Linked DNA regions of Homo sapiens. The protein of the gene in region 5 interacts with the protein of the main gene of each other region in a pairwise test. Each region holds a gene or a part of one and is shown on either strand. Other genes may lie near its edges. The genes, in order: SIRT3, SH3GL1, PINK1, MAGEA3, DNM1L, ECH1 and MAGEB6.

Region 1 (3,268 bases), on a different chromosome or scaffold from region 5:
CTACATAGTAGTTTTATGTAGATACCGAGATAATAGTATTTACATAGTCAGATCTGTCATTTTCCTTTGCCTTATCTGACTTCAGTTTTTACGCCTAGAACGTTCTTCCCTATCCTTACTTGTAAATCCTTAGTTTTCTTCAAGAACTGTTTTGTTTACATTGAAACCTTTAATCCATTTGAATTTTTTTCAGTGGGAGGTAGGAATGGAGTATTTTCCTCCCAGATAATGAGCCAGTTTTAATGCCATTTATTAATGTATCCATTTTTTTACCTTGTTCCTCTTAAAAGAAGCTTTGAGAGCTGTATGAAGAAGCCTGATGGCACCGAGCTAGGCCTCTCTAGAGGCTGGGTGGGGAAGACCATGGAGAGACGTAACAGTAACTCCTGCTCGGGGGCACCAGCTCGTCTGGGTGCCCGATGCTGGTGGTGGCTGTCAGAGCAAGCAGGGCTAGCCAGAGGAGATGGACGAGTCTGTGCTGTTGTCCCTCTGCGTCATGCTGGGAGACAGCGAGGTGGGGAGGACAGGGAGAACAGAACGTGCTCACAAAGAGGAGGCAGGAAGGTTGGATCCCTGATGAGCCTTGGAACGGAGGTGGGGAAAAGCAAGGATGTGTGGAAACAGCAAGAAGTGGGAGAGAGAGAGAGAGGCGGAGGGGAGAAAACCGTCACGGAGGCCAAGCGGCAGGAGCTCAGCTGAAGAAATGAGATTGGTGGTGGGTTTTCCCTATATCGCAGGCTCTGACTGCCAATCTGCTGCTCCTCCAAGGCCTCGGTGGCTGTGGCATGAAACATCCTGAGGAGCTTGTAAAGTGGACACTGTGCCCCTCACGTTTGGCCCATTTTTCAGGTGGAGCCTTTTGCCAGCTTGACCGAGGCCGTGCGGAGCTCAGTTCCCCGACTGCTCATCAACCGGGACTTGGTGGGGCCCTTGGCTTGGCATCCTCGCAGCAGGGACGTGGCCCAGCTGGGGGACGTGGTTCACGGCGTGGAAAGCCTAGTGGAGCTTCTGGGCTGGACAGAAGAGATGCGGGACCTTGTGCAGCGGGAAACTGGGAAGGTACAGACTGCTGAGGAGGACCATCCAAGGGGCTGCCCTTCTCACTGCTCTAGGGTATGGTCCACCTGATATGGAGCCCCGTTGGTTAACACAGTAACAGTAATAGCTGATGATGCTGTGAATCCTGCACCAGGCACTACCTGGACCTGACTGGGTGTTACTTTCAATACCTCCATTTAGAGATGAGGAAACAGATGCTAACAGGCCAAGCAGGGACACGGTCCAGACACTCAGGGCTGATGAGTCTGTATTCTTAACAGACTATAGGCGTTACCTTCACTCCCTAAAATAAAGCAGCCAACAGTGTCCCTCTAAGGCCTGGTATGTGATTCTAAGATGATACGGGTTAAAGAACTTTGAGAAGCTAAAGTTCTCTGCATCTATGTGGGATGAAGGCTACATGAGTGATGCTTTTCGGAAGTAATTGGTATGAGAGCCATTGATCAATTATAATCCGCTGAGGAAAGCCAAAGAGCCTTGATGCTTTCTAAGAGATTTCAAACCGCCTATAAACAAGTGAAGTTACAGAAAATGCAGTTTCCCATAAGAATCATGTAGCATGTGTAGCCTTGATATTAAGGGTTTTCAATGGGAGGTGGTAGCATTAAGCATTTAAAGTCCAGTGTCATGATTACAGGCAGGTGTAACACTGTCCAAAGGGGATTTCACCAGTGTATTAGTCTGTTCTCTGGCTGCTCATAAAGGCATACCTGAGACTGGGTAATTTATAAAGGAAAGAGGTTTAATGGACTCACAGTTCCATATGGCTGTGGGGGCCTCACAATCATAGTGGAAGGCAAAGCAGGAGCAAAGTACTGTCTTACAAGGTGGCAGGCAAGAGGACGTGTGCGGGGGAACTGCCCTTTATAAAACTATCAGATCTTGTGAGACTTATTCACTATCAGAAGAAGAGTGTGGGAAAGACCCGCCCCCATGATTCAGTTACTTCCACTTGGCCCCACCCTTGACACATGGGGATGATTACAATTCAAGGTGAGATTTGGGTGGGGACACAGCCAAACCATATCAACTACAATATATCACAGTTGATGCTCCTCTTGCCTTCCAAGGCAGATGTCTTAGGAAATCCTGATCCTTTTTCCTTGTCCACAGCTGTGGCTGCCTCATGGCTCAGGGCCATGGGGTCAGCACTCTCCTCACCTCCACCAGTCCAAGACCTCCAACCTCTGGTTGCAGGCTGATTTTTTACCAATCATGGTCACTTCATTATGGAGGCAGGGAACCCAGCTAACAATGAGGCTTAAACGCTGAGAGGCGAGTGCCTCCTGGCCAGCTCACAAGGCAGCGGAGATCTTAGATCAGCCCAGCAGGCTTTTTTGAGGGATCCTTTTCCTGCTCCAACTTCATATTTTCTTTTTTTTGTAATGGAGTTTCACTCTTGTTGCCCAAGCTGGAGTGCAATGGCACGATTTTGGCTCACTGCAGCCCTGCCTCCTGGGTTCAAGTGATTCTCCTGCCTCAGCCTCCTGAGCAGCTGGGATTACAGGCATGTGCCACCATGCCTGGCTAATTTCTGTACTTTTATTAGAGATGGGATTTCATCATGTTAGTCAGGCTGGTCTCAAACTCCTGACCTCGGGTGATCCACCTGCCTCAGCCTCCCAAAGTGCTGGGATTATAGGCATGAGCCAGCAGGCCCGGCCCAACTTCCTGTTTTCATAGAAAAGCAGATTGTAACTCTGGTAGCTCCTGTGGAGTTTTGGAAGTGGCTTAATAGGATTTGAACTGTATAATCTAGTTTCAGAGAAATGTATGTAAAATGGGTTATGATTTCATTTTCTGTTTTTTACAGCATTACTATCCAAGGGGTTACTTTTCCAAATAGTGAATGCTTTTAAGCACATGAGCATCAGTACATATTGATTTGGGTACTTTAAGACCCATAGAATGAGGCTCTCCATTTAGCCACCCTGTTCTGCCCAGGCCTGCTGGGATCCTCTTAGCCCAGCACAGCAGCAGCAGTATTTGCAGAAAGCAGCTTGTTTTGTGAAATATTTTGCATGTCTGCAGCTAGAGCTGTTTGAACAGAGATCTGCTGGCCTGCCTGGGTGTGTAAACAGATAGCTGATACCCTCTGTCTTCTGTATTCCAGCTTGATGGACCAGACAAATAGGATGATGGCTGCCCCCACACAATAAATGGTAACATAGGAGACATCCACATCCCAATTCTGACAAGACCTCATGCC
Region 2 (3,540 bases), on a different chromosome or scaffold from region 5:
GGACTCATTCTGCTCAGCTCTCGGCTAGCTGTGGAGGCTGTGGTGTCCCCATGGGTGTCTGGAACCAGGCAGGGAGGGGCTGAAGTGGGGGCAGGATCGGGAGTGTGCACATAAGCCCCACCCCTCCACACAGCACCGCTGCCCCTGGGAGCCAGGCCCTCGGTTACATACTGCCCCACTGGGTAAGCAGCAGGCTGTGCTGCGGGACCCCAGCCCTGTGCCTCGGTCTCAGGGGGGCTCAGTCAGGATGCTGGACTTGCACGGTGGACTGTGAGGCGCAGGGCTGGCTAGGACCCCCGGGCACAGCCTGAGGCCCAGCCCCCTCGTTTCAGATCTCCTTGGCCAGCAGGACGCCCAAGGACCAGAGCCTGTGTCACGTCCTGGAACAGGTGTGCGGCGTCCTCAAGCAGGGGAGCTGAGCCTTCCAGGGCAGGGTGGGCTCCAGTTGTCTTGAGGGTCCGGATGGGCTCAGGTAATAAAGAAACGGAAGCAGCAGCCAGCCACGCTGGTCTCCCCAAGGCTGGGGTGAGGGTGGCTGGGTGCCCAGGCTGGTACCATCACCCCAGCTTCCTCACTTCCAGGGCAGGGCATTAACTTCCAGGATACCCCTCAGCCCCTGCACCTGGGAACTGGCACAAAAGCCTCAGGGCCAGTCCCACCCACCTTGGGCTCAGGAGCACCTGGGGTGCTGGAGGGACCTCCTGGGGTGTGTGTGGCTTTGGAGCCGGCCCCTCAGGAAGGCGGTGGGTGGCAGGCCCACCCCTGCACCAAGACGAGGCAAGGGGCTGTAGAAAGAGACATTTAATACTTCTGTTTACAAAATTCAGGCGTACATTTCAGTTTGCCCTGGACCGTGCCCAAAGCTGTGTGCTCATCTCTGCGCCCCTCATGTACTTCTGACGAGGGGGGTGCAGGGCAGGGCAGAGCAGAGCCTGGGGTCCGGAGGCTTCACTGGACCACAGGGGGAGGGGAATGTGAATGTGGCCTGGCCCAGAGAACTCCCCATTTCATCGATTTTGCATTGGGCGATAGAGGAAGCAGATGTCGGGGCTGCCTGCCTTGGTCTAGAGGAGATGGCTGGGGCCACTTCCCACAGGGTGAAGTGGCAGCGGCTCAGCAAGGGGAGCCTGGCCACCAGGGGCTGGGACATGCGCTCACTGGAACCTTTGTGCTTGGCCCTCGGCAGCGCGGCTGTGGTCCCGTGTGAGGTGTGCTGGGGTGGGTGTGGGTGGCTGGTGGTGGCAGCTTGTGCCAGAGTGACACAGGCCTCCCTGGGTTGGGATGGGGGCAGTTAAAAAGCTGAAAAGGTACTTGGCTTTCTGAGGGCGGGGCTTGGGAGGCAGGGCCCTGCAGGAGACCATGTTCTCTGTCCTCAGGCAGATCCCAGCTGGCCTCTGTCCCCGGGCTGCAAGCTGACAGCAGGCCCGGGAGGCGGTGAGGCCCTCTGCCCTGGCCTTGAGGAGAAGGAGTGCGTGTGTGAGGCGGGGGTGCATTGGCCCTGGAGTAGGGCCAGGGCCCATCACCAGCACCAGGCTGGGAGGGATTTAAAACCAGGGTCCTATCTCTGAGCCACCCCATGGGGACCCTCGATCCCATCCTGTTAAGGCTGCGGGACTCGAGGGTAGGCAGTGGGCCGGGCCCCCGTCGGGTCAGGACGGAGGTGGGGGCTGCCCCAGAGGAACATTAGTGTTTCTAAGAGCACCTTAGTGTTGCCCCGCCTCGGCCAGCTGGGCGAGAAGTTGGGGAGCGGGGGAGGAGGCTGGCGCCATGGAGTGGGGAAGGGAGCCGTCACCGTTGGGAGTCAGCGCTAGTGTAAACAGGCATCCCCACCCACCCAGATAAGCCCCCCCACCCAAGTGTGGGGTCCTGCTCAGGGAGTACCTCAAGGGCCGGGGCCCAGGTGGCGCCGGCAGGCTCAGACACCGCCCTGGCAGCAGGGGCTCCGTGGAATGCAGGAGACCCAGCAGGGGGTGCCGGCCAGTGTGGACGGAGGGGCGGGGCGGGGACACGGGTGAGTCACTGCGGCAGGGGCACAAGCACCTCCACGTAGCTGAGCGGGAAGAAGCCCGACTGGCCGTCCAGCATGCCCTCGTACCAGTTCTCATCGATCTGGTTGGTCAGCGTGATGACGTCGCCCTCATGGAAGCCCAGCTCCCCGTCGTTCTCGGGCTCGAAGTCGTACAGCGCCTTGCAGCTCGGCTGGTCCAGGGGCGCTGGGGGCGGGAGCGGGCTGTGGGGCTGGGGCTGCTACGCCTCACCCCGCCCAGTCTGGGGTCTCAGACCTGCTGTGACCTGGAGCGTGTGGGTGGGCATGGGCCTCCCCTCTGCCCTGCCTGGGCCACCCCCTGCCCCTGCCACTTCTGGGGTCCGGCCTCTACTGCCACCCAGGAGGGAGGATGGGAGAAGCTTGGTTTAAGTGGTCACCAAAGCTACTCCTGGGAAGTGCTGGGGACACCCGGTGCTGCTGCGGTGACAGGGAGTGACCAGATGCCCTCAAGCCCTTGTAGCCACCACACAGCCTAGAGCTAGCTGGGCTAGTGCCCTTGGCAATCCCTCATTCACACTGTGAGGCTGAGACCCAGAGGGGTGGCATCTTGCAGGCTGTGGGGCCTGTGCCCCCTACTGCTGCACGAGCCTGGCCCCTCCCTGCTTGAGATGGGCAGAGAACAGGGCGGGAGGAGAAACACCCTCCCCGAATGGCCGAGAAGGCAGCACTGAGGTCGAGGCGGGCCTGGGAACACTCACGCATGCTCCGGCTAGGGGTCCGGATGGGCTTGTCGGAAGATCGGAAAGACGATGAAGCTAAACACAAGCAAAACGAGGAGGCTGTGGGCTCAAAACGGTCGGGCAGGGCCCCTTCTGCAGAAGGCTGGGGCCAGCCCTTCCCGTCTGCCTTGGCGGTCCAGATGGAGCACGGCTGAGAGCTGCACCCAGGAGTCTGGCGCTCAGAGACCCAGGACAGGGCCAGCCCTTGGCCACTCCCACCCGCTGGCATTTGCCTCCGCAAGAGGGCTCCATGCCCCATTACCTGCGATCTTGGGGGCTGTGGTGCAGGGGAAGCCCCCGTTGGACTGCTCAGGCTCTCCAAGGTCAAAGGGCTCCCGGGGCTTGGGCTTATACTCCCGCTTAGGGCGTGAGGAAGCTTCCCGCATCCTGTGAAGGGAGAGGCGTGAGTGGACCGAGCCCGTGTCACGGCCGAGGCAGCCCCACTCTTGTATTTATGCTGCTGCCTAATGACCTGGCCTGGGACTGCAGGAAGAGGCCGTCAGTGGGGTTGTGACACATGGACCCTGGGACACAGCTAGACTGGGATGTCTACCCAGAGGGCCTCCAGCCTGGACCCCCACCTTGGAGGCATCCCAGAGATTGCCAAGCAGCTGGGGCCTGCCACAGCATCTACCTACAACACCCCCAGTCGCATCCCCTGCCTCCTCCCCCAATTCCCCACCACGGACGGCGCCCCACATACGCCAAGGCCCCTGAAGCAGGTCTGGCCTCTGCATTCAGGGAGGGGAGCCTGGGTGTTCCTGTGGCAGCAGC
Region 3 (4,050 bases), on a different chromosome or scaffold from region 5:
CTCACTACAACTTCCACCTCCTGGGTTCAAGCGATTCTCCTGCCTTAGCCACCTGAGTAGCTGGGATTACAGGCGTGTGCCACCACGCCCAGCTAGTTTTTGTATTTTTAGTAGAGATGGTGTTTTGTTGGCCAGGCTGGTCATGAACTTCCGGACTCAAGTGATCCACCTGCCTCAGTCTCCCAAAATGCTGGGATTACAGGCTGTGAGCTACCACACCCGGCCAACCAAGTTGACTTCTGATTAACCAGCTTTTAGGGAAGGCCTCTAAGATTTCCAGTTTATCTATTGTTCCTTGTGTAAAAGTATGTACTTACCATAAATCCTGCCCTTAGGCAGATTCACACAGCATTCTTGCCTTTCCCTGGGGGACTGACTTCAAATGTCCGTCACATTCCTTTCCTATAGCATATAGGCCCTGGGTCTTGGGGGTAATGGCATGGGGATCCACCATCTTGTCTCCCTGCCGCTGAAGCCAGAGACTATGGCTTCTGTTCATAAATCCCTTTCTCCTTAAATATGAAGTCAAAGGTCATGTAGATAGGAGCTGCTGCTGAAGAAGGGATTTTTTGTCTGAAGAGTTCTGTCCCCTGGGCTTACTTGGCTATGGGGTGGACCCCTGGCCAGGAGACAGCAAACTGTTTCAGTAATGTGCGTGTCGTGCGTGTGTGTGTTCTGTGGTGAGCAGGCCTATGCCATTAAACAAACGGTGTGGCTTTGGGCAAGCTGCTATCTTGGGACCTCAGCACACTCATTCATAAATTGTGTCTTTTGGGTGAGATTTGTCTTGGGGTCTTCAAAACCCCTGAGACTGTGGACACATACAGCAGCCTAACGGCATTGAGGAGGGCAAGCATTCAACAGTTAGGACAATGTGAACTGTAGCTCAGCTCTGCTAGGTACCTTCACAAGACCTCGAATGCTGCCCCTTACTATGCCTCGGTTTTCTTATCTATAAAAACGGCATTTTTATCTTGTTGGTGGAGCTGTTAAATAAATTAAAAGACGTAAAGGGTCTGGCACCATGGTTGGCAAAAAATATCAGTTTCCCTTCTCGACTTCTCGATTTTGCCCAGGACCAGTGATGTTCACATTCAGGACCTGCCTGAACCGGCAAGCCCTCCACGTGGGTCCAAAGTGCAAAGGGAAAGTCACTGCTAGAGGCGCCAGTACCAGCATAGCGCCCCCACGCGCCGAGTCGGGGAACTGCCGCGGGGGCCGGCCCCGCCCACCAGCGCCTGCGCCTGCGCAGAGGCACCGCCCCAAGTTTGTTGTGACCGGCGGGGGACGCCGGTGGTGGCGGCAGCGGCGGCTGCGGGGGCACCGGGCCGCGGCGCCACCATGGCGGTGCGACAGGCGCTGGGCCGCGGCCTGCAGCTGGGTCGAGCGCTGCTGCTGCGCTTCACGGGCAAGCCCGGCCGGGCCTACGGCTTGGGGCGGCCGGGCCCGGCGGCGGGCTGTGTCCGCGGGGAGCGTCCAGGCTGGGCCGCAGGACCGGGCGCGGAGCCTCGCAGGGTCGGGCTCGGGCTCCCTAACCGTCTCCGCTTCTTCCGCCAGTCGGTGGCCGGGCTGGCGGCGCGGTTGCAGCGGCAGTTCGTGGTGCGGGCCTGGGGCTGCGCGGGCCCTTGCGGCCGGGCAGTCTTTCTGGCCTTCGGGCTAGGGCTGGGCCTCATCGAGGAAAAACAGGCGGAGAGCCGGCGGGCGGTCTCGGCCTGTCAGGAGATCCAGGTGAGCGGGGCCGGGTCCTAAGCCGAGCGGAGGACGGAGCTAAGCGCGGGGGCGGGTCCTCAGCTGGGTGGGGGCGGGGCTAGGTGTGGAGGCGGGGCTCTGAGCAGATCGAGGGCCGAGGCGAGGGTCCTTAAAGCTCATCTATTTCACCATTACTGATCGGCTGCTATAAATAAAGCCAGCACCTCCCATTTGTTTTAATGTTTCCCTTCCTCAAATGAAGACATGTTGCCGATTACAGCTCCTGTCGCAGCACAGCAAAAGGCTTTGTGTAAATTTTCTAAAATGTACGGACAACTAAATCATAACATTCCTATCCCTTTGAGGTAGTTGCCGTCCCTAATTTATGGAGAAGGAAAGTCCTCAGGTGAAGGGACTTGCTCGAAGTCACACAGCTAATAAAATGCAGTGCCCTTAACCACTGAGCCAGGCTGCCTCCGCCGTTTAACCAAAGGATTAGTAGTGACAGAGCTGAAACCGCAGTAAAAACTATGAACGGCGAGAAAAACAGTCCTAACATTTTAGTTACCTGTGTAGAGTTATCCCTGCTGACTGGATACACAAGGGTTCTTAGGGTTTTTTAATGCTTAAAATAGCACAAGACTTCTCTTTTTGCCCAACCAAAGTCTGTATTAGGGTTCTCCAAATGGAATCAATAGGATGTGTCTATATAGAGGCAGGTTTATTTTGAGGACCTGGCTCCCTATGGGGATTGGCAAAGTCTTAAAAGCCGCAGAGTAGGCGGGCAGGCTGGAGAGCCAGGGAGGAGCCAGCGGTGCAGTTCAGGTTTGAAGCCTGGCCGCTGGCAGAATTCCATCTTCTTCCAGGGAGGTCACTCTTCTTCCTGGGGGTGTAGAACCACTCACTAAATTAGCATAGCCCCTGCATTTTACAGGTTAGGGCTGAGGTGGTGGAAGAGGGAGTGACTTGCCCAAGGACACAGCTGTTAGGGCCAAGCAGTGGCTCCTGGGTTTCCTGGTTTCCATCCCAGTTCTTATTGCTCATCACCACTGTCTCATGTTTGAGCTCTGGCCAGTTTGGGGTGACAGGTGACATCTGGCCTAGTCCCCAGCCCCTGACCTTGTCTTTTGCCACAGCTTAACTGGCAGAAGCTAAGGATGGGAAATTTGACTAATCCTGCTTAAAACTAAAGAGGCTTTTTTAACTGAGGAGATTGATCCTCCTAAACTTACCATTCACACACACCTTCTTCGCACACTTCACCCTCCTATGCCTGAAAATGTTATTAGTTATCAATTAATTTCACATTAAAAAAATTTTTTTTGGTCAGGCACTGTGGCTCATGCCTGTAATCCCAGCACTTTGGGAGGCTGAGGCGGGCGGATCACGAGGTCAGGAGTTTGAGACCAGCCTGGCCAACATGGTGGAACCCTGTCTCTACTAAAAATACAAAAATTACCCGGGCGCAGTGGTGGGCGCCTGTAATCCCAGCTACTTGGGAGACTGAGGCAGGAGAATTCCTTGAACCCGGGAGGCGGAGGTTGCAGTGAGCTGAGATCACGCCACTGCACTCCAGCCTGGGTGACAGAGCAAGACTCTGACTGGGGGGAGAAAAAGTTGTTTTCACTGGCTACTTTTGCTGGAATTAATTTCACATTTAAAAAATTCTGGGCCGGGCGGGGTGGCTCATGCCTGTAATCTCAGCACTTTGGGAGGCCAAGGCGGGCGGATCATGAGGTCAGGAGATCGAGACCATCCTGGCTAACATGGTGAAACCCCGCCTCTACTAAAAATACAAAAAAATTAGCCAGGCATGGTGGCAGGCGCCTGTAGTCCCAGCTACTCGGGAGGCTGAGGCAGGAGAATGGCGTGAACCCGGGAGGCAGGGCTTGCAGTGAGCCAAGATCGCGCCACTGCACTCCAGCCTAGAGGACAGAGTGAGACTCCGTCTCAAAAAAAATAAAAAATAAAAAAATAAAAAATTCTGAAGCCAGGCATGGTGACTCATGCCTATAATCCTGGTGCTTTGGGAGGCCAAGGTGAGAGAATCTCTTGAGCCCAGGAGTTGAAGACCAGCTGGGACAACATAGTGAGACCTTGTTCCCACAAAATATTAAAAAGTTAGCTAGGCATGGTGGCACATGCCGATAGTCCCAGCTACTTAGGAGGCTGAGGTGGGTGGATTGCTTGAGCCCAGGAGTTTGAGGCTGCAGTGAGCTGTAGTTGCAACACTGCACCCCATCCTGGGCAACTAGCAGGAGTGTGCTAGTAGCAAGCTCTAAAAATTTATATTATAAAAATATATATATAATGTGTATATATATGTATATGTGTATATATGTTGTGTATACTATAATATGT
Region 4 (4,828 bases), on a different chromosome or scaffold from region 5:
AGGTATGTGGAATATTCAAGTGCATCGGCCTTCAGAACGAGGAGTGCAACAGATTACTACAGCAAAATCAAAATCTTCACCTCACGAAAGCAATAACTAACTACAACAATTAATAGACAATATGCCATTTGCAATAGCAACAAAATTCATGAATTGCCTGAAAAGAAGTCTAATAAAAATGTATAAGGTCTTTATAGAGACAACTGTCGAAGTATACTGACATATTCAGGTAAAAAAAAGCTTGAAATACATAGAGGAGTATAACATATTCATTCATGGGGAGCACAACACTGTAAAAATGTAAACTCAGCTTAAATTATTTACAATTTAGTGCCTTACCTGTAGCCGCCGCCATTACAACAAATTTGGGCTGCTGTGCTCTGCTTCCCAAATCAAACCTGGAAAATTACAGAATGGAAACAGTAAATAAAAAACCAGTATCAGCAACAAAATCTACGCAACAAAACAGGGAAAGCCCAGGGTGAGACTCAAGGCTGTGTTGAGCTGGTACTTGTGTTTGACACTTGCAGTGTTGGTTGGAGGGGGTTAGCAGCAGGGATGTTGGGGAGGTTTGTAGCCGGCCTACACGGTAGATGACAGAATGGGTAGAATAAAAGTTTGAAATTTTCCACTTCACTTCTTTGCACAATCTGAGGCAGCCTCTGAAAACACGATGCCAAGAGCCCTAGGTAATAGCAGGACACCAGGAAAATTTGGTTGGTTAAGGCAGTATGACTCCAGAGTTCTGCTAATAACAACCTGAAACCACCATAGTGGCAGAGGAATTACATTTTTAAAAAAAAAAAATTCTTTCAACAGAACACAAAGACTGAAATAGGAGGTCACTACAACCGCGGGAGCTGCCGCCCCGCCCTGCAGGGAGCACCTGGCCTGGGACCCGCAGGCATTCTCTACAAGGGGTGCAGCTGTGCAAATGCTCACAGGTGACAGAAACAGAGCATCTCCTGCCCATCACTTCATCCAACAGCCAGAGGTGACGAAGACGACCCTCCTGAGTGAGGACTGAGGGTCCACACCGCCCCCCCACCCCACACACCATAGAGGGACCACAGAATCCAGCTCAGCCCCTCTTGTCAGCCCTGGTAAACGCAGGCAGTGATGTCACCCAGACCACACCCCTTCCCCCAATGCCACTTCAGGGGGACTCAGAGTCAGAGACTTGGTCTGAGGGGAGCAGAAGCAATCTGCAGAGGATGGCGGTCCAGGCTCAGCCAGGCATCAACTTCAGGACCCTGAGGGATGACCGAAGGCCCCGCCCACCCACCCCCAACTCCCCCGACCCCACCAGGATCTACAGCCTCAGGACCCCCGTCCCAATCCTTACCCCTTGCCCCATCACCATCTTCATGCTTACCTCCACCCCCATCCGATCCCCATCCAGGCAGAATCCAGTTCCACCCCTGCCCGGAACCCAGGGTAGTACCGTTGCCAGGATGTGACGCCACTGACTTGCGCATTGGAGGTCAGAAGACCGCGAGATTCTCGCCCTGAGCAACGAGCGACGGCCTGACGTCGGCGGAGGGAAGCCGGCCCAGGCTCGGTGAGGAGGCAAGGTAAGACGCTGAGGGAGGACTGAGGCGGGCCTCACCTCAGACAGAGGGCCTCAAATAATCCAGTGCTGCCTCTGCTGCCGGGCCTGGGCCACCCCGCAGGGGAAGACTTCCAGGCTGGGTCGCCACTACCTCACCCCGCCGACCCCCGCCGCTTTAGCCACGGGGAACTCTGGGGACAGAGCTTAATGTGGCCAGGGCAGGGCTGGTTAGAAGAGGTCAGGGCCCACGCTGTGGCAGGAATCAAGGTCAGGACCCCGAGAGGGAACTGAGGGCAGCCTAACCACCACCCTCACCACCATTCCCGTCCCCCAACACCAACCCCACCCCCATCCCCCATTCCCCATTCCCATCCCCACCCCCACCCCTATCCTGGCAGAATCCGGGCTTTGCCCCTGGTATCAAGTCACGGAAGCTCCGGGAATGGCGGCCAGGCACGTGAGTCCTGAGGTTCACATCTACGGCTAAGGGAGGGAAGGGGTTCGGTATCGCGAGTATGGCCGTTGGGAGGCAGCGAAAGGGCCCAGGCCCTCCTGGAAGACAGTGGAGTCCTGAGGGGACCCAGCATGCCAGGACAGGGGGCCCACTGTACCCCTGTCTCAAACCGAGGCACCTTTTCATTCGGCTACGGGAATCCTAGGGATGCAGACCCACTTCAGCAGGGGGTTGGGGCCCAGCCCTGCGAGGAGTCATGGGGAGGAAGAAGAGGGAGGACTGAGGGGACCTTGGAGTCCAGATCAGTGGCAACCTTGGGCTGGGGGATGCTGGGCACAGTGGCCAAATGTGCTCTGTGCTCATTGCGCCTTCAGGGTGACCAGAGAGTTGAGGGCTGTGGTCTGAAGAGTGGGACTTCAGGTCAGCAGAGGGAGGAATCCCAGGATCTGCAGGGCCCAAGGTGTACCCCCAAGGGGCCCCTATGTGGTGGACAGATGCAGTGGTCCTAGGATCTGCCAAGCATCCAGGTGAAGAGACTGAGGGAGGATTGAGGGTACCCCTGGGACAGAATGCGGACTGGGGGCCCCATAAAAATCTGCCCTGCTCCTGCTGTTACCTCAGAGAGCCTGGGCAGGGCTGTCAGCTGAGGTCCCTCCATTATCCTAGGATCACTGATGTCAGGGAAGGGGAAGCCTTGGTCTGAGGGGGCTGCACTCAGGGCAGTAGAGGGAGGCTCTCAGACCCTACTAGGAGTGGAGGTGAGGACCAAGCAGTCTCCTCACCCAGGGTACATGGACTTCAATAAATTTGGACATCTCTCGTTGTCCTTTCCGGGAGGACCTGGGAATGTATGGCCAGATGTGGGTCCCCTCATGTTTTTCTGTACCATATCAGGTATGTGAGTTCTTGACATGAGAGATTCTCAGGCCAGCAGAAGGGAGGGATTAGGCCCTATAAGGAGAAAGGTGAGGGCCCTGAGTGAGCACAGAGGGGATCCTCCACCCCAGTAGAGTGGGGACCTCACAGAGTCTGGCCAACCCTCCTGACAGTTCTGGGAATCCGTGGCTGCGTTTGCTGTCTGCACATTGGGGGCCCGTGGATTCCTCTCCCAGGAATCAGGAGCTCCAGGAACAAGGCAGTGAGGACTTGGTCTGAGGCAGTGTCCTCAGGTCACAGAGTAGAGGGGGCTCAGATAGTGCCAACGGTGAAGGTTTGCCTTGGATTCAAACCAAGGGCCCCACCTGCCCCAGAACACATGGACTCCAGAGCGCCTGGCCTCACCCTCAATACTTTCAGTCCTGCAGCCTCAGCATGCGCTGGCCGGATGTACCCTGAGGTGCCCTCTCACTTCCTCCTTCAGGTTCTGAGGGGACAGGCTGACCTGGAGGACCAGAGGCCCCCGGAGGAGCACTGAAGGAGAAGATCTGTAAGTAAGCCTTTGTTAGAGCCTCCAAGGTTCCATTCAGTACTCAGCTGAGGTCTCTCACATGCTCCCTCTCTCCCCAGGCCAGTGGGTCTCCATTGCCCAGCTCCTGCCCACACTCCCGCCTGTTGCCCTGACCAGAGTCATCATGCCTCTTGAGCAGAGGAGTCAGCACTGCAAGCCTGAAGAAGGCCTTGAGGCCCGAGGAGAGGCCCTGGGCCTGGTGGGTGCGCAGGCTCCTGCTACTGAGGAGCAGGAGGCTGCCTCCTCCTCTTCTACTCTAGTTGAAGTCACCCTGGGGGAGGTGCCTGCTGCCGAGTCACCAGATCCTCCCCAGAGTCCTCAGGGAGCCTCCAGCCTCCCCACTACCATGAACTACCCTCTCTGGAGCCAATCCTATGAGGACTCCAGCAACCAAGAAGAGGAGGGGCCAAGCACCTTCCCTGACCTGGAGTCCGAGTTCCAAGCAGCACTCAGTAGGAAGGTGGCCGAGTTGGTTCATTTTCTGCTCCTCAAGTATCGAGCCAGGGAGCCGGTCACAAAGGCAGAAATGCTGGGGAGTGTCGTCGGAAATTGGCAGTATTTCTTTCCTGTGATCTTCAGCAAAGCTTCCAGTTCCTTGCAGCTGGTCTTTGGCATCGAGCTGATGGAAGTGGACCCCATCGGCCACTTGTACATCTTTGCCACCTGCCTGGGCCTCTCCTACGATGGCCTGCTGGGTGACAATCAGATCATGCCCAAGGCAGGCCTCCTGATAATCGTCCTGGCCATAATCGCAAGAGAGGGCGACTGTGCCCCTGAGGAGAAAATCTGGGAGGAGCTGAGTGTGTTAGAGGTGTTTGAGGGGAGGGAAGACAGTATCTTGGGGGATCCCAAGAAGCTGCTCACCCAACATTTCGTGCAGGAAAACTACCTGGAGTACCGGCAGGTCCCCGGCAGTGATCCTGCATGTTATGAATTCCTGTGGGGTCCAAGGGCCCTCGTTGAAACCAGCTATGTGAAAGTCCTGCACCATATGGTAAAGATCAGTGGAGGACCTCACATTTCCTACCCACCCCTGCATGAGTGGGTTTTGAGAGAGGGGGAAGAGTGAGTCTGAGCACGAGTTGCAGCCAGGGCCAGTGGGAGGGGGTCTGGGCCAGTGCACCTTCCGGGGCCGCATCCCTTAGTTTCCACTGCCTCCTGTGACGTGAGGCCCATTCTTCACTCTTTGAAGCGAGCAGTCAGCATTCTTAGTAGTGGGTTTCTGTTCTGTTGGATGACTTTGAGATTATTCTTTGTTTCCTGTTGGAGTTGTTCAAATGTTCCTTTTAACGGATGGTTGAATGAGCGTCAGCATCCAGGTTTATGAATGACAGTAGTCACACATAGTGCTGTTTATATAGTTTAGGAGTAAGAG
Region 5 (4,362 bases):
TTTTTATATGAACACTGGTTCTCACTTAACATGGTTAAACACCTAGGAATGGGACTGCTAATTTAACTTTATAAGAAACTGCCAGACTGTTTCCCAAAATGACTACACCACTCCCACCAGCAACGTGTGAGAGTTCCAACTGCTCTGCATAGTGTACAATTTTACCTATGGTATTTTTCAGTTACAAATATATATACATAGGTATATATATATATTTTATATATATATTTTATATATTTATATATATTTTATATATATACCTATGTATATATATTTGTAACTGAAATATATATACTATAAAATATATATAGTATATACTATATATATTTATATATACTATAAAATATATAGTATATATTATATATATTTTATATATAGTATATATAGTATATATATACTATATATTATATATACACTATATATTTTATATATACTATATATTATATATACACTATATATTTTATATATACTATATATTATATATAGTATATATAATATATATACTATATATAATATATAGTATATATAATATATAATATATATTTTAAATATATACTATATATATTTTAAATATATACTATATATATTTTAAATATATAGTATATATATTATATATATATAGTATATATATATATTTTAGACGGAGTCCTGCTCTGCATAGTGTACAATTTTACCTATGGCATTTTTCAGTTACAAATATATATACCTAGGTAGATATATATATAAAAAATACATATACCTAGGTAGATATATATATAAAAAATACATATACCTAGGTAGATATATATATAAAAAATACATATACCTAGGTAGATATATATATAAAAAATACATATACCTAGGTAGATATATATATAAAAAATACATATACCTAGGTAGATATATATATAAAAAATATATATACCTAGGTAGATATATATATTTGTAACTGAAATATATATACTATAAAATATATATAGTATATACTATATATATTTTATAAATATACTATATATAGTATATACTATATATATTTATATATACTATATATAGTATATATATAAAATATAGTATATATTTTATATATATATAAAATATAGTATATATAGTATATATATTATATATAGTATATATAGTATGTATAGTATATATAATATATATAGTATATATATTATAAATATATACTATACATACTATATATACTATACATATTTTATATATATACTATACATATTTTATATATATACTATATATATTTTATATATAATATAGTATATATATTTTATATGTATAGTATATATATATATTTTAGATGGAGTCCTGCTCTGTCACCCAGGCCGAAGTGCAATGGCACGATCTCAGCTCACTGCAACCTCTGCCTCTCGGGTTCAAGCAATTCTCCTGCTTCAGCCTCCCGAGCAGCTGGGATTACAGGCGTCTGCCACTGTGCCTGGCTAATTTTTGTATTTTTAGTAGAGATGGGGTTTTACCATGTTAGTCAGGCTGGTCTCAAACTCCTGATCTCAGGTGATCCACCCGCCTTGGCCTTCCAAACTGCTAGAATTACAGGTGTGAGCCACCGTGCCCGGCAAAAATGTTTTAAAAAATTATACACAATGTTTAACATTATTTTTAAAAAAGCACTGGTAAGTAAGGCATTACCAAAATGATGACAGAGGTAATACTAAGTGGGATTGTAGATGAGGGTTTTCCTTTATTAACACTAAATAGTTGTATTTAATGGATCATTTTCTTTCTTTTCTTTGCCCTTTTTTCTTTTTGCATTTACCAGGTCGCAGAACCCTAGCTGTAATCACTAAACTTGATCTCATGGATGCGGGTACTGATGCCATGGATGTATTGATGGGAAGGGTTATTCCAGTCAAACTTGGAATAATTGGAGTAGTTAACAGGTTAGCAGTTAGAATGGGATAAGAATTGGGATAAGCATTCTTAGAATGGGATAAGCATTCTCACTTCAGAGCAAGTCTGAATTTCTAAAATCTGTTTGAAATGTGATGCTGTACTATATTTTTTCTCCCTTTTATTATGATCTTGGTATTGCTAAAGAATCCGTTGCCCTAAAGGGAGAAAAGAGAGAGAATTTTTTTTTTTTTTTGAAATAGGGTCTCTCTCTGTTGCCTAGGCTGGAATGCAGTGGCGTGATTGTGGCTCATTGTAGCATCAACCTCTGGGCTCAAGTGATCCTTTCACTTCAGCCTTTCAAGTAGCTGAGACTATAGGTGTGTATCACCACACCTGGCTAATTTTAAATTTTTTTGTAGTGACAAGGTCTTGCCATGTTGCCCAGGCTTGTCTCGACTTCCTGGGCTCAAGCAATCCTCCAACCTTGGTTTCCCAGGTGCTGGGATTACAGGCATGAGCCACTGTGCCTGCCCCATAGACATTTTTACTGGAAAATGTTTCTAAAGTAAGCAATACCACAAAATGGAAGAAATGTTGTAATAGCCAGGCTTTAAGAATTCTTGCCTATCATGTTAAGCTATGTATGAGGAGGTACTGGGTAAGGGAAAAATTATCTAATGTGCACCCAATCGAGAAAGAGTTTAAGGTGGCAGGATTTTAATAGATTGGTTTTAATCCCTGGCATTAGTGATGCTTCTGTGTAATTGCCAGGATGTGACTTGGAGAAATTGTATTAAAGGTATCCTAATTTATAAATAGTTGGTATTAAAAACTGGGAAAAGGAAACTAGTATTGAGTGTCTAATTAAAGGTGACAAGATTTTAATAGATTGGTTTAATCCCTAGCATTAGTGATTCTGTGTAATTGCCAGGATGTGACTTGGAGAAATTTTATTAAAGGTATCCTAATTATAAATAGTTGGTATTAAAAATCGGGAAAAGGAAATTATTATTGAGTGTCTAATTACGTTTTAGACACTCTACTGTGAGCAATTTGCAAATGGTATCTCTTGGAATCCTCACAGCATCCCCTGAGGTAGGTGTTGATGTCTATTTTATAATCAGAAACCTCAGGTTATACATTTAACCAAAAGTCACGTGGGTAGTGAAAGAGCTGGATTCGGATGAATATCTCTTTTAGTCCAAAGCCTTCATATGGTAGGAAACACTGAAATTATCATGAAATCTGAGTTATAGTCCTAGTTCTTACATAAACTAGATACAACGTAGGTTTAAATGACACCTAATGTCTTTGGGTCTCAAGCCTTTAGAAAATGAAAATGTTTTTACTGCCTGATACATAAGATCCATTCCAGTTGTCTGCTTCTATTTTAATGTCCTTCCATTCCAACCCTACTGTCATTCTCCCATCCCCACTGTCATTCTCCCATCCCCACTCCCAATTCCAGCTGTCTCCTTTTTCAGGTAAGGAGGTGGCCTAACACTGTTCGTTGTTTGTAGATGATTGTTCTTCAAGTTAACTTAATTATTTTTGGGAGAAATTAGTTCCCTGTCCATGGATAAAATATACAGTTGACTAAGATACTCTTATATTTTTATACCTGTCTATACCTGTTACTTATTGTTTTTGTCTATAGTTAATGGTAATAATGAGGCCTACTCTATTTAGGCACTAGTTACTTACAATTCACTTAGTTCAAGTCTTGGCTATGCCAGTTAGTGTGTGACCTGGGGTAAGTTAGTTTTTGTGAGCCTCAGTTCCTTGCTATACAATGGGGTAATAATACCTGCCACATAAAATTATTGTGAGAATTAAATAAAACAGTCCCTGTCAGGTATTAGAGAACAATGCCTGGTGCTGTCATCATCTAAGGTAGGAAGAGGACAACAGTTAAGCTGAATAGTTTCGTTATTTTTTCAACCTCAGGAGCCAGCTAGATATTAACAACAAGAAGAGTGTAACTGATTCAATCCGTGATGAGTATGCTTTTCTTCAAAAGAAATATCCATCTCTGGCCAATAGAAATGGAACAAAGTATCTTGCTAGGACTCTAAACAGGTAATTTTTTTACCTTTTGGAAATGAGATGTGTTTGTTTTTACCAATTGGTGTCTGAGAGGGTTCATTTTCAGTTCCTTACATTTTCATACTGTTCCTAACAGCTTCACTTATGGTTTCTTATATAGTAGGTTCCTGAAGAGTAGATGTCTCTGTTTTTATTGGGGTGGTTGACATTACATCATCACGTAGTCTAGAATGAATGTACAAGTGATTTTAAAATGTTTTAATTACGAAAATTTTGACAGTTAATTTAGTTTTGTGGCTAGAACTAGAGATGACTTCATTTCCACTTTGCATTTCAGGAACTGATTAAAATTTGTAATTTTCACATTATCTATTCTTACCTTAGAATGTGTTTTATTTACCAGGAAAGGGAGATGGAAAAACAAAGAAATAGAATGTCTTTTATTTCTATTCACTGTAGAAATAACTATAC
Region 6 (4,299 bases), on a different chromosome or scaffold from region 5:
ATTCTCCTGCCTCAGCCTCCCGAGTAGCTGGGACTAGAGGCACCTGCCACCACACCTAGCTAATTTTTGTATTTTTAGTAGAGACTGGGTTTCAACATGTTGACTAGGCTGGTTGCAAACTCCTGAGCTCAGGCAATCCACCTGCGTCAGCCTCCAAAAGTGCTGGGATTACAGGTGTGAGACGCCAGCATCAGATCCCATGTGCTGTGCAGTGAGAGGTGCCAGGCAGGGCACGAACGCCACCCTCAACCCCAGGGCAGGCAGGGAGACCAGGAAGCCTTGCAACCCAGAGGGACCCCAGCGACTTTTGCTCACTCCCTCCGCCCCGGAATTCCTTGTGCCCCTCGCCTGCCCGCTGCCAGTCTGAATGGCCATCACCTCCATGCCACCCATTCCCATGCATCCAACCTCTAGCCCCAGCCTTCAGGACTGCAGTCTCTGGAGCCCCTAGGTGCATCCCAGCCCCTCCCACCTCTCCTCTATCCAAGAAGGGCACCAGGTTCTTTACTTTGCTTTATTGTTTGTGGGGTGAAGATAAGGCCTTGGGCTTGAGAAACTCATTGTCATAAAGTTATAAACTGGGAAACTGGGTCAGAAGGCATAGAAACAACTGTCATCGCCCATCCTCCCTTTCTGTGGATGAGGCGGGACAAGGCCGGCCCCCTGGCTGGGGCCTGGGACGCGAGGGCTCTCAGAGCTTGGAGAAGGTGACGGTTTTCAGTTCCTTGTTCTCAGTCGTGGCCTGGACCGACTTCACGAGGTCTTGGGTCTGCAGCATGCTCATGTTCCAGGACGCCTGGTACCGAGGGTGTTGAGAGAGAACGAGGAGAGAGATTAGCAGGGGCCAATCAGGATAAAGCATGAGAGCACCCTGCACCCTGGTTGGTCGCCTGGGGTTAGAGGAGGGCTGTGATTGGTCGGAGCGTGCACCTTACCACGTAGTTGAGGCTCTCGGCCACCGAATGGTCGCGGGAATACAGCAGGTTGACCTTGGTGCTCTGCACCGCCACGGGGCTCTTGCTGGAAATCTCGGCCGCCAGCGCTAAGGCAGCATCCAGCATGACCTCTTTGTCTGGGAACACCCGGCTGCAGTGAAAGAGATCAGGGACCGGGTGGGCTGGGAAGGGCTCTCTCCTCCAGCCTCCCGCAGATGAAGAAGTGGCCACTCACAGAGGAAGGCCCAAGACCCCAGAGAAACAGCCCAATCAGAGCAGGGGGCTGACCCCACAATAAAGAAATGAGCTCACCAAGAAAGGATGCCACTAGGAATTCTAGAGCGAGGAGACAAGGGGACCCGGAGAGGCCTCCAACCCTCCAGGCCTGGCTGCCCCCAGCACTGAGCTACCACGGCCATGGCCCTACCTGACCAGCCCACTGCCCAGGGCCTCGTCAGCCATCATCTTGCGGGCGGTGAAGGCCAGCTCGTTGACCAGGCTGCAAAGGCAAGCGTGCATCAGGAGGCGGCTGCCACCCCGGGGCTGGGAGATGCTCTGGGGTCTCCTGCCCACACCCCCACACCCCCTGCACCCACCTCTGGTTCCCGATGACCTTGGGCAGGCGCTGCAGTGTTCCTACATCGGCAGCCAAACCCACGTCCACCTCCTGGGGGAGGAATCGGGTCAGTGTTTGGTTTCTGCCCAATACTGTGCCCCTCGCAATGTCAACGTCCATGAAATTTCATGTCTACTGGAGAGTCCCGCCCCACCTTCACCCCAGTGACTTCCTCCAAAGTCCCATTCCATTGCCCAGGCAGCTTCTTGACTCAGGCAAGTTCCTTCAACCTAGAATAGAGCCCACCTTCCCACTCATGCACCCTCCCATTCCCTCAGGGCAGCTCCATCTGTGAGAGAGGAACCCTCCTCACCCTACCTGAGACCCCTTTACTGCATCCCCCGGCTCCATCCTGCCTCCCACCCTCACCAGTATGGCCCCAGGAGCAATCTCTGCCTCTGACACCTGCCAGCCTCAACCCCACCTCATACCTTACCCACTCACAACTTCACCTCTTGACTTCCTCTATGGGCAAGTCTTACTTTGTCGGGTTCAACTCCGACTCTTCCATGAAGCCCTCGAGGCTCACTCCAGGCCCCCCAACCTCACCCCACTGCCCAGCTCTAAGCAGGAGCTCGGGAGGATGACTCACCTTCACCTGGAAGAAAGCATCCTGGGCACAGTACCGGATGTCACAGGCGGTGACAAGGTCCACACCTAGGAGGTAGAGGCCAGGGATGCTGAATGACCACCAGAACCAACCCTGGCTCCCGGGAGGTGGGGCTGCCTCTTGGGACACAGTCTGGCCCATGACAGAGCTGAGGCTGGATGCCAGTGGCCGCGGCATCGGAGCAGCAGCCCCACCTGGGGAGCACCCGAGCAGGAGGATAGCCGCAGACTCACCTCCGCCAATGCAGCCCCCATGGACGGCAGCAATCACGGGCTTGGGGCACTGAGAGGGAACAGGAAGAGTGGGGTCAGGGCTGGCCCAGGGGAGGCGCGTATGGAGAAAGATCCCCTCCAGACCCCTAGAGTCACCCTCTCGATGACGTTGAAGGTCTCCTGGTATCGAGTGATGATGTCACGGAGGTACCAGCTGATCCGGGCCACATCATCTCCTTTGGGCTGCAGGATGTCCGAAGCCATGTCCATCAGGTCAATACCTGGTGAGAAGGCATGATGGAGCTCATCCAGGCTCCCAGGCCCCACCCATTGACTCAACCAGGGATCAGAACCCAGGCACAGCAGGTTCGAACCCCCAAACCACCAAGGCGGAAAAAAAACAACTCACACAGGACTTGGTGAGGGATTGATTGCATGTTGGGTGGGAAGGAAATAAAAGCTAATATTTGTGGAGTCATTACTCACAGAATCCTCACAGCAACCGTACCAGCTAGGTCCTATTACTATTTGTGTTACCAATGGGTAAACTAAGGCACAGAGAGGTTAAGCACTTGCCCAAGGGGGTCACACTGGCTGGTGAGTAGTGAGTAATGAACTATTTAAATTAACTCATTAATGTTTTTAGAGACAGGGTCTCACTCTGTTATACCAGCTAGAGTGCAGTGGCACGATCATGGCTCACTGCAGCCTCGAACTCCCAGGTTCAAGCAATCCTCCCACCTCAGCCTCCTGAGTGGCTGGGACTGTGCCGAGGCTGCTCTTGAACTCCTGGGCTCAAGCGATCCTCCCACCTTGGCATCCCAAAGCACTGGGATTACACGTGTGAGCCACCATGCCGCATCAGAAGTAGGATTTTAAAATCTGGAACCATGCAGCTGGCTCCAGAGGCCATGCTTTTCCCCAAGATGCCAGACAGCCTGGGACTCAAGGTCTGCAGCGTGAGCAATGCAGTCAATGGTGGTGATGTTTCCTGAGATGAGAAACATCTCACGATGCAGCAATTTCTGTGGCTCCAACTTCAAGATGATCCTGAATCTGACCTTTCCTGCATCAGTTGTTCTCCATGAGCCCACCCTGCTCTCCCTGTTTCCACCTGTGTCCCCAGTCTATTCCCTACAGGCAGCCAGGGGAAGCCAGTGGACACCTTCTTGGGTCAGATCCTCTTTTTTTTTATTTTATTTTTTTTATTTCAGACAGAGTCTCGCTCTTGTCGCCCAGGCTGGAGTGCAGTGGCAGGATCTCGGCTCAATGCAACCTCCGCCTCCCGGTTCAAGTGATTCTCCTACCTCAGCCTCCCAAGTAGCTGGGATTACAGGCGCCCACCACCATGCCCGGCTAATTTTTGTATTTTTAGTAGAGACGGGGTTTTGCCATGTTGGCCAGGCTAGTCTCAAACTCCTGACCTTGTGATCCACCCACCTCGGCCTCCCAAAGTGCTGGGATTACAGGCGTGAGCCACCGTGCCCGGCCCAGACCCTCTTTTTCCCACCTGTGGCTCTTAGAACAAAATGGAACGTCCTTGTCATGACTACCCTGCATGAACACTGTTCCCAACCTGTTACTTTGGGCACACTGGCCTCCAACTCTGTGTGTGTGTGTGTGTGTGTGTGTGTGTGTGCACTGTTCCCAACCTGTTACTTTGGGCACACTGGTCTCCAACTCTGTGTGTGTGTGTGTGTGTGTGTGTGTGTGTGCGGGCACGTGCATTTGAGCCCAGGAGTTGGAGGCTGCGGTCAGCTATGATCGCACCACTGCACTCCAGCCTGGGCGACAGAGCAAGACCCTGGCTCAAAAATAAAAAATAAAAAGAAAAGAAAATGGCAGGACAGAGAGGTGAAAAGACAAGTGGAAATAGGATCCAGATCACTGCCTGAGGGCTGTGCAGTGGTACAGAATCTTCTCATT
Region 7 (4,882 bases), on a different chromosome or scaffold from region 5:
GGAGTATAGTCACACAAAATCAATAACTAATTATAATATGTAATGTGAAATATGCCTTTCACAACAGCAACAATATCCAAAATATATCTAACAGAAAACCAAATAGAAATGTACATGTTCATTAAGGAGACAGCTATAAAAATTTACTGAAAGACTTAGGAAAAATAAATCTCCAATAAAGCAGTGTACTATGTTTATTTACTGTGGAGGAGATATTGTAAAGTTATTGATTCTCCTTAAATTTTTTACAGATTCATTGCCTTAGCCATAGCTGTGAAGATGACAACCAAACCCGGGTGGTTCTTTCCCATGACCAAACTCAACCATAGAAAAGTTAAAGGAAGAATTTTTTTTTAAAAAAAAAGCAGTATTAACAACAGCAAAACAACAAAAATGCGAACCTTGAGAGATGGTCAGTTTGTATTGAACAAGAATGGGTGTGTGGGCAGGTAGGGGCATGAGCTGAAGTAGAGACAGGTCTGTGGCCTACAACAGACGCAGATAACGGAATTGGCTAGAGGAAAAGCTTTAAAACTTTGGTCTTTGCTTCTTTCACTGTGCCATTGGACAATGCATTTTTTTTTCTGCTTCACTAAAGGAAATTCAGTCAGAAACTTGGACCCTATGTGCCAGTTCCATGGGGTAATATTGCCACAGCAAAAACATCTGGGTAGGCTGAAGAAGTATGAATCCAGACACTGTGCTAATAACTACCTGAAACTTCTTTAGTGGAAGTGGACTGGCCTTTAAATTCGTATTATTTTAATATAATATAAAGAATGGACTAAATTAGGATAGCAAATATTGCAGTGAGTCACACAAGATAATGGTAGAAATTCATTCATGAAGGTGTTGAATACAGACACTGATGTCAGCCAAGAGAGAAGTCCCAGACATAGCTATCAGGCTAAGAAGTCTTCTCACTTTCTCCTTATGAATTTTACAGGATCTAGTCAGAGGAAGGGGATGAATTTACATCAGAAAATGGAGAAAACTGAGACCCTGCCAGCAGTCAATGTGAGGACCCTGAGTGAGGACTGAGGGGCTCCACATATCAGAAGAGACAAGAGTGCCCCCCAAATCTCCCTTCATTCCCCGATCTTGCATCACAACTTAATAGCAGCAGCCAGGTTTAGGAGGCCCCAGGCAGTAGTGGCCAGGTGAGGTGTAACTGAATTGCACATGAGGAGTCTCAGGAAGTTGAAGTCTAGTCTGAGAGGGTGTCCTCAAGTCAGTAGAGGGGACATGGCAAGAATGAAGCGACGACACTGAGTGAGGGCTGAGGGCAAAGTCCATTCCAAAAAGGGGGTCTCACAGAGCTCCACCCCTACTGTCAGTCTTGGAAGGTCCCGGCATGGCTCCCGAGCTCAGGCTGCACCTTACTTCCAACTCTGGACTCTCAGGGAATGAGAGCCTCTATCTCCGGTTGACTGATTCAGCTCAACAGATAGAGAAGTCCAAGGGTCCGCGAAGAGCCCCTGAAAGAACTTTACGTGAGTTCCCTGGAATCTGCTGCACCCACAGAACACAAGGGGGAGTAACAGAGCCCTGCAGCTACTGTTACGCAGGGAGCGCCAGGTGGGCGTGGCCGGAAGTGGTTCCTCTTGACTTCCACCTAATAAAGGGGTCTGAGCCGGTCGCCTGAGCCTGAAAAGTGCTGTCACGTCAGCGGAAGGAGGCGTCCCAGATCTTCTCAGCTGTCTTGGTGGGTATCCTGACCTAGAACGGGGGGCATTCCCCGACAACTTCAACCCCCTTCCCCCGAAGAAAGGCGGCTCCACAGAGCCCTGCCCCAACCTGCCCCGACCTGGTCCCTGAGGAGTCCCCAAACATGGCTGTTAGGCCCAAAGTCCATTCATTTTTTTCCGTCGTGTTGAAGAACATGAAGGCCTCGGTCCAAGGCTTGTGGACCCAGGTCAGTAGAGGGAGAAATCTCAGGCCCTACATAGTTAAGAGGACCCTCCTTAGAATTGAGGGAGGGGATTCCATGTCCCGTAACGGGTTGCACCGAACTCTGCCCTTGACGTTAGCCTGGGGGTCCGGGCAGGTCTCTAGAGACTGAGGTGCATTCTCACTTTGTCCCTGTGAGAGTCAGAGAGGTAGGCCCCTGGTTGTAAGGAGATGGCAGCAGGTCAGTGAGGGTGATTTCCAGGTTGTGGGAAGAGTCAGGGTGAGGAGTCTAATTACTGTGAGGAGCATTCTCACTATAACTGGAAGAGCACTCAAATGCCTCCGCTGTTGTCAGCCCTAGGTGGTCTGGGTGTCCCCGGAATGAAGTGTTGGGCAGAAGTGCTTCCTTATTTCCTCCGGGTTAAAATTCCTACTGTCAATTTCAGAGTGGCACAAGGAAATGGGCCTCTGGGTCTTGTCAACAATTTTTTTTTTATTATACTTTAAGTTTTAGGGTACATGTGCACAATGTGCAGGTTTGTTACATATGTATACATGTGCCATGCTGGTGTGCTGCACCCATTAACTCGTCATTTAGCACTAGGTATATCTCCTAATGCTATCCCTCCCCCCTCCCCCCACCCCACAACAGTCCTCGGAGTGTGATGTTCCCCTTCCTGTGTCCATGTGTTCTCACTGTTAACTTCCCACCTATGAGTGAGAACATGCGGTGTTTGGTTTTTTGTCCTTGCGATAGTTTGCTGAGAATGATGGTTTCCAGTTTTAATGATGATCCTGAATGTAAACAGAGAGGATCCAACCCCTGAACAGAGGGGCCCCCACTGCCAGCCCCTGCTGTCACCTCAGTAAGCCCCAAAATGGGCTGTCATGCTATAGTCTAATACTCTAACTTCCTCCTGAGTTTGAAGGAGACAAACTGACCAGGAGAAAAGGAGTCCTGTGGGTTCCTAGAGCAGCTGTTCTGCGGAAACCTGCAGAAGGGGCCCTAGTTAAAGCCAAGATGGTCGCTCTCTGCTGAAGATATTGACGTGACGTCACTCTCTCCCATCCAGGTGCCAGCCTTCCTAGTCTTCCTACCCACACTCCTACCTGCTGTCACAGGCCACAGCCATCATGCCTCGGGGTCACAAGAGTAAGCTCCGTACCTGTGAGAAACGCCAAGAGACCAATGGTCAGCCACAGGGTCTCACGGGTCCCCAGGCCACTGCAGAGAAGCAGGAAGAGTCCCACTCTTCCTCATCCTCTTCTCGCGCTTGTCTGGGTGATTGTCGTAGGTCTTCTGATGCCTCCATTCCTCAGGAGTCTCAGGGAGTGTCACCCACTGGGTCTCCTGATGCAGTTGTTTCATATTCAAAATCCGATGTGGCTGCCAACGGCCAAGATGAGAAAAGTCCAAGCACCTCCCGTGATGCCTCCGTTCCTCAGGAGTCTCAGGGAGCTTCACCCACTGGCTCTCCTGATGCAGGTGTTTCAGGCTCAAAATATGATGTGGCTGCCAACGGCCAAGATGAGAAAAGTCCAAGCACTTCCCATGATGTCTCCGTTCCTCAGGAGTCTCAGGGAGCTTCACCCACTGGCTCGCCTGATGCAGGTGTTTCAGGCTCAAAATATGATGTGGCTGCCGAGGGTGAAGATGAGGAAAGTGTAAGCGCCTCACAGAAAGCCATCATTTTTAAGCGCTTAAGCAAAGATGCTGTAAAGAAGAAGGCGTGCACGTTGGCGCAATTCCTGCAGAAGAAGTTTGAGAAGAAAGAGTCCATTTTGAAGGCAGACATGCTGAAGTGTGTCCGCAGAGAGTACAAGCCCTACTTCCCTCAGATCCTCAACAGAACCTCCCAACATTTGGTGGTGGCCTTTGGCGTTGAATTGAAAGAAATGGATTCCAGCGGCGAGTCCTACACCCTTGTCAGCAAGCTAGGCCTCCCCAGTGAAGGAATTCTGAGTGGTGATAATGCGCTGCCGAAGTCGGGTCTCCTGATGTCGCTCCTGGTTGTGATCTTCATGAACGGCAACTGTGCCACTGAAGAGGAGGTCTGGGAGTTCCTGGGTCTGTTGGGGATATATGATGGGATCCTGCATTCAATCTATGGGGATGCTCGGAAGATCATTACTGAAGATTTGGTGCAAGATAAGTACGTGGTTTACCGGCAGGTGTGCAACAGTGATCCTCCATGCTATGAGTTCCTGTGGGGTCCACGAGCCTATGCTGAAACCACCAAGATGAGAGTCCTGCGTGTTTTGGCCGACAGCAGTAACACCAGTCCCGGTTTATACCCACATCTGTATGAAGACGCTTTGATAGATGAGGTAGAGAGAGCATTGAGACTGAGAGCTTAAGGCAGGGCTGGCACTATTTCCTTGGCCAGGGTACCTTATGGGGCCATATCCTACAGATCCTCCCATTTCTAGGGAGGTCTGAAGTAGAATTTTCACTTTATGTTAGAAGAGAGTAGTGAGCTTTCTAAGTAGTGCAGTATAGTAGAGGCTGGAGGGAACAAGATATGTATCTTTCTTTTGTTACACATGAGTAACTTGCAGATTTATGTTTTATCTCTGTCAGTTATCAACATTGTTCCTGTTAAGTGAAGGTTTATTTTGCTTCAGATTATACAATTATCAATAACATAGCTCTCACATTCATGGCTGTTTAACCAATCTGAAAGTTACGGTTTGGGAATTAATAAAACAAAGTCATACAACACATTTTCTTTGTAATTGAGAACTAGATAACATGGTAACAGAGAATTGATTTTCATATGAATCTTAACTCCACAGTAAAATAGTTGACATCATAATATGAAGAGAAAGAAAAGGAAAAACAGAAATGTAAAAGTTGTTTAATTCTTGGTTTGCCTAATTCGTTTTCCTATTTCTTTTCATACAAATAAAGGATACCTGGATTTATTTAGGTTATTAAGACTGCCGTTAGTTTGTTTTGTTCTAGTGCACTTCATATTCCATGTTATCTACT

Evidence for each region.
Region 1: the proteins of DNM1L (region 5) and SIRT3 interact in a two-hybrid assay, tested with the Homo sapiens proteins (one large-scale study listed by IntAct).
Region 2: the proteins of DNM1L (region 5) and SH3GL1 interact in a two-hybrid assay, tested with the Homo sapiens proteins (one study listed by BioGRID and IntAct).
Region 3: the proteins of DNM1L (region 5) and PINK1 come close enough for resonance energy transfer, tested with the Homo sapiens proteins (one study listed by BioGRID).
Region 4: the proteins of DNM1L (region 5) and MAGEA3 interact in a two-hybrid assay, tested with the Homo sapiens proteins (one study listed by BioGRID and IntAct).
Region 6: the proteins of DNM1L (region 5) and ECH1 come close enough for resonance energy transfer, tested with the Homo sapiens proteins (one large-scale study listed by BioGRID).
Region 7: the proteins of DNM1L (region 5) and MAGEB6 interact in binary tests that used the Homo sapiens proteins (3 or more experiments, as listed by UniProt).

What each region holds. Positions count from the first base shown.
Region 1 is NC_000011.10:216,623-219,890, reverse strand, and holds part of SIRT3 (NAD-dependent protein deacetylase sirtuin-3, mitochondrial), read left to right. Parts: intron 1-290; exon of another isoform or gene 291-849; coding exon 850-1,059; coding exon of another isoform or gene 1,060-1,113; intron 1,114-3,172; coding exon 3,173-3,193; 3' UTR 3,194-3,268.
Region 2 is NC_000019.10:4,359,584-4,363,123, forward strand, and holds the end of SH3GL1 (endophilin-A2), read right to left. Parts: intron 3,154-3,540; coding exon 3,029-3,153; intron 2,803-3,028; coding exon 2,746-2,802; intron 2,214-2,745; coding exon 2,017-2,213; 3' UTR 787-2,016; downstream 1-786. Other genes in the region: MPND (MPN domain-containing protein), read left to right, coding at 333-419. UniProt on the Homo sapiens protein: Implicated in endocytosis. May recruit other proteins to membranes with high curvature.
Region 3 is NC_000001.11:20,632,208-20,636,257, forward strand, and holds the start of PINK1 (serine/threonine-protein kinase PINK1, mitochondrial precursor), read left to right. Parts: upstream 1-1,250; 5' UTR 1,251-1,341; coding exon 1,342-1,728; intron 1,729-4,050. UniProt on the Homo sapiens protein: Serine/threonine-protein kinase which acts as a sensor of mitochondrial damage and protects against mitochondrial dysfunction during cellular stress.
Region 4 is NC_000023.11:152,697,256-152,702,083, forward strand, and holds the start of MAGEA3 (melanoma-associated antigen 3), read left to right. Parts: upstream 1-1,538; 5' UTR 1,539-1,574; exon of another isoform or gene 1,575-1,819; intron 1,820-1,950; exon of another isoform or gene 1,951-2,009; intron 2,010-2,050; exon of another isoform or gene 2,051-2,533; intron 2,534-3,302; exon of another isoform or gene 3,303-3,366; 5' UTR 3,367-3,432; intron 3,433-3,512; 5' UTR 3,513-3,577; coding exon 3,578-4,522; 3' UTR 4,523-4,828. UniProt on the Homo sapiens protein: Activator of ubiquitin ligase activity of RING-type zinc finger-containing E3 ubiquitin-protein ligases that acts as a repressor of autophagy. May enhance ubiquitin ligase activity of TRIM28 and stimulate p53/TP53 ubiquitination by TRIM28.
Region 5 is NC_000012.12:32,716,872-32,721,233, forward strand, and holds part of DNM1L (dynamin-1-like protein), read left to right. Parts: intron 1-1,771; coding exon 1,772-1,892; intron 1,893-3,792; coding exon 3,793-3,924; intron 3,925-4,362. UniProt on the Homo sapiens protein: Functions in mitochondrial and peroxisomal division.
Region 6 is NC_000019.10:38,814,922-38,819,220, forward strand, and holds the end of ECH1 (delta(3,5)-Delta(2,4)-dienoyl-CoA isomerase, mitochondrial precursor), read right to left. Parts: intron 2,655-4,299; coding exon 2,530-2,654; intron 2,444-2,529; coding exon 2,395-2,443; intron 2,209-2,394; coding exon 2,144-2,208; intron 1,603-2,143; coding exon 1,532-1,602; intron 1,435-1,531; coding exon 1,363-1,434; intron 1,087-1,362; coding exon 936-1,086; intron 797-935; coding exon 692-796; 3' UTR 501-691; downstream 1-500. UniProt on the Homo sapiens protein: Isomerization of 3-trans,5-cis-dienoyl-CoA to 2-trans,4-trans-dienoyl-CoA.
Region 7 is NC_000023.11:26,190,823-26,195,704, forward strand, and holds MAGEB6 (melanoma-associated antigen B6), read left to right. Parts: upstream 1-1,617; 5' UTR 1,618-1,705; intron 1,706-2,963; 5' UTR 2,964-3,024; coding exon 3,025-4,248; 3' UTR 4,249-4,824; downstream 4,825-4,882.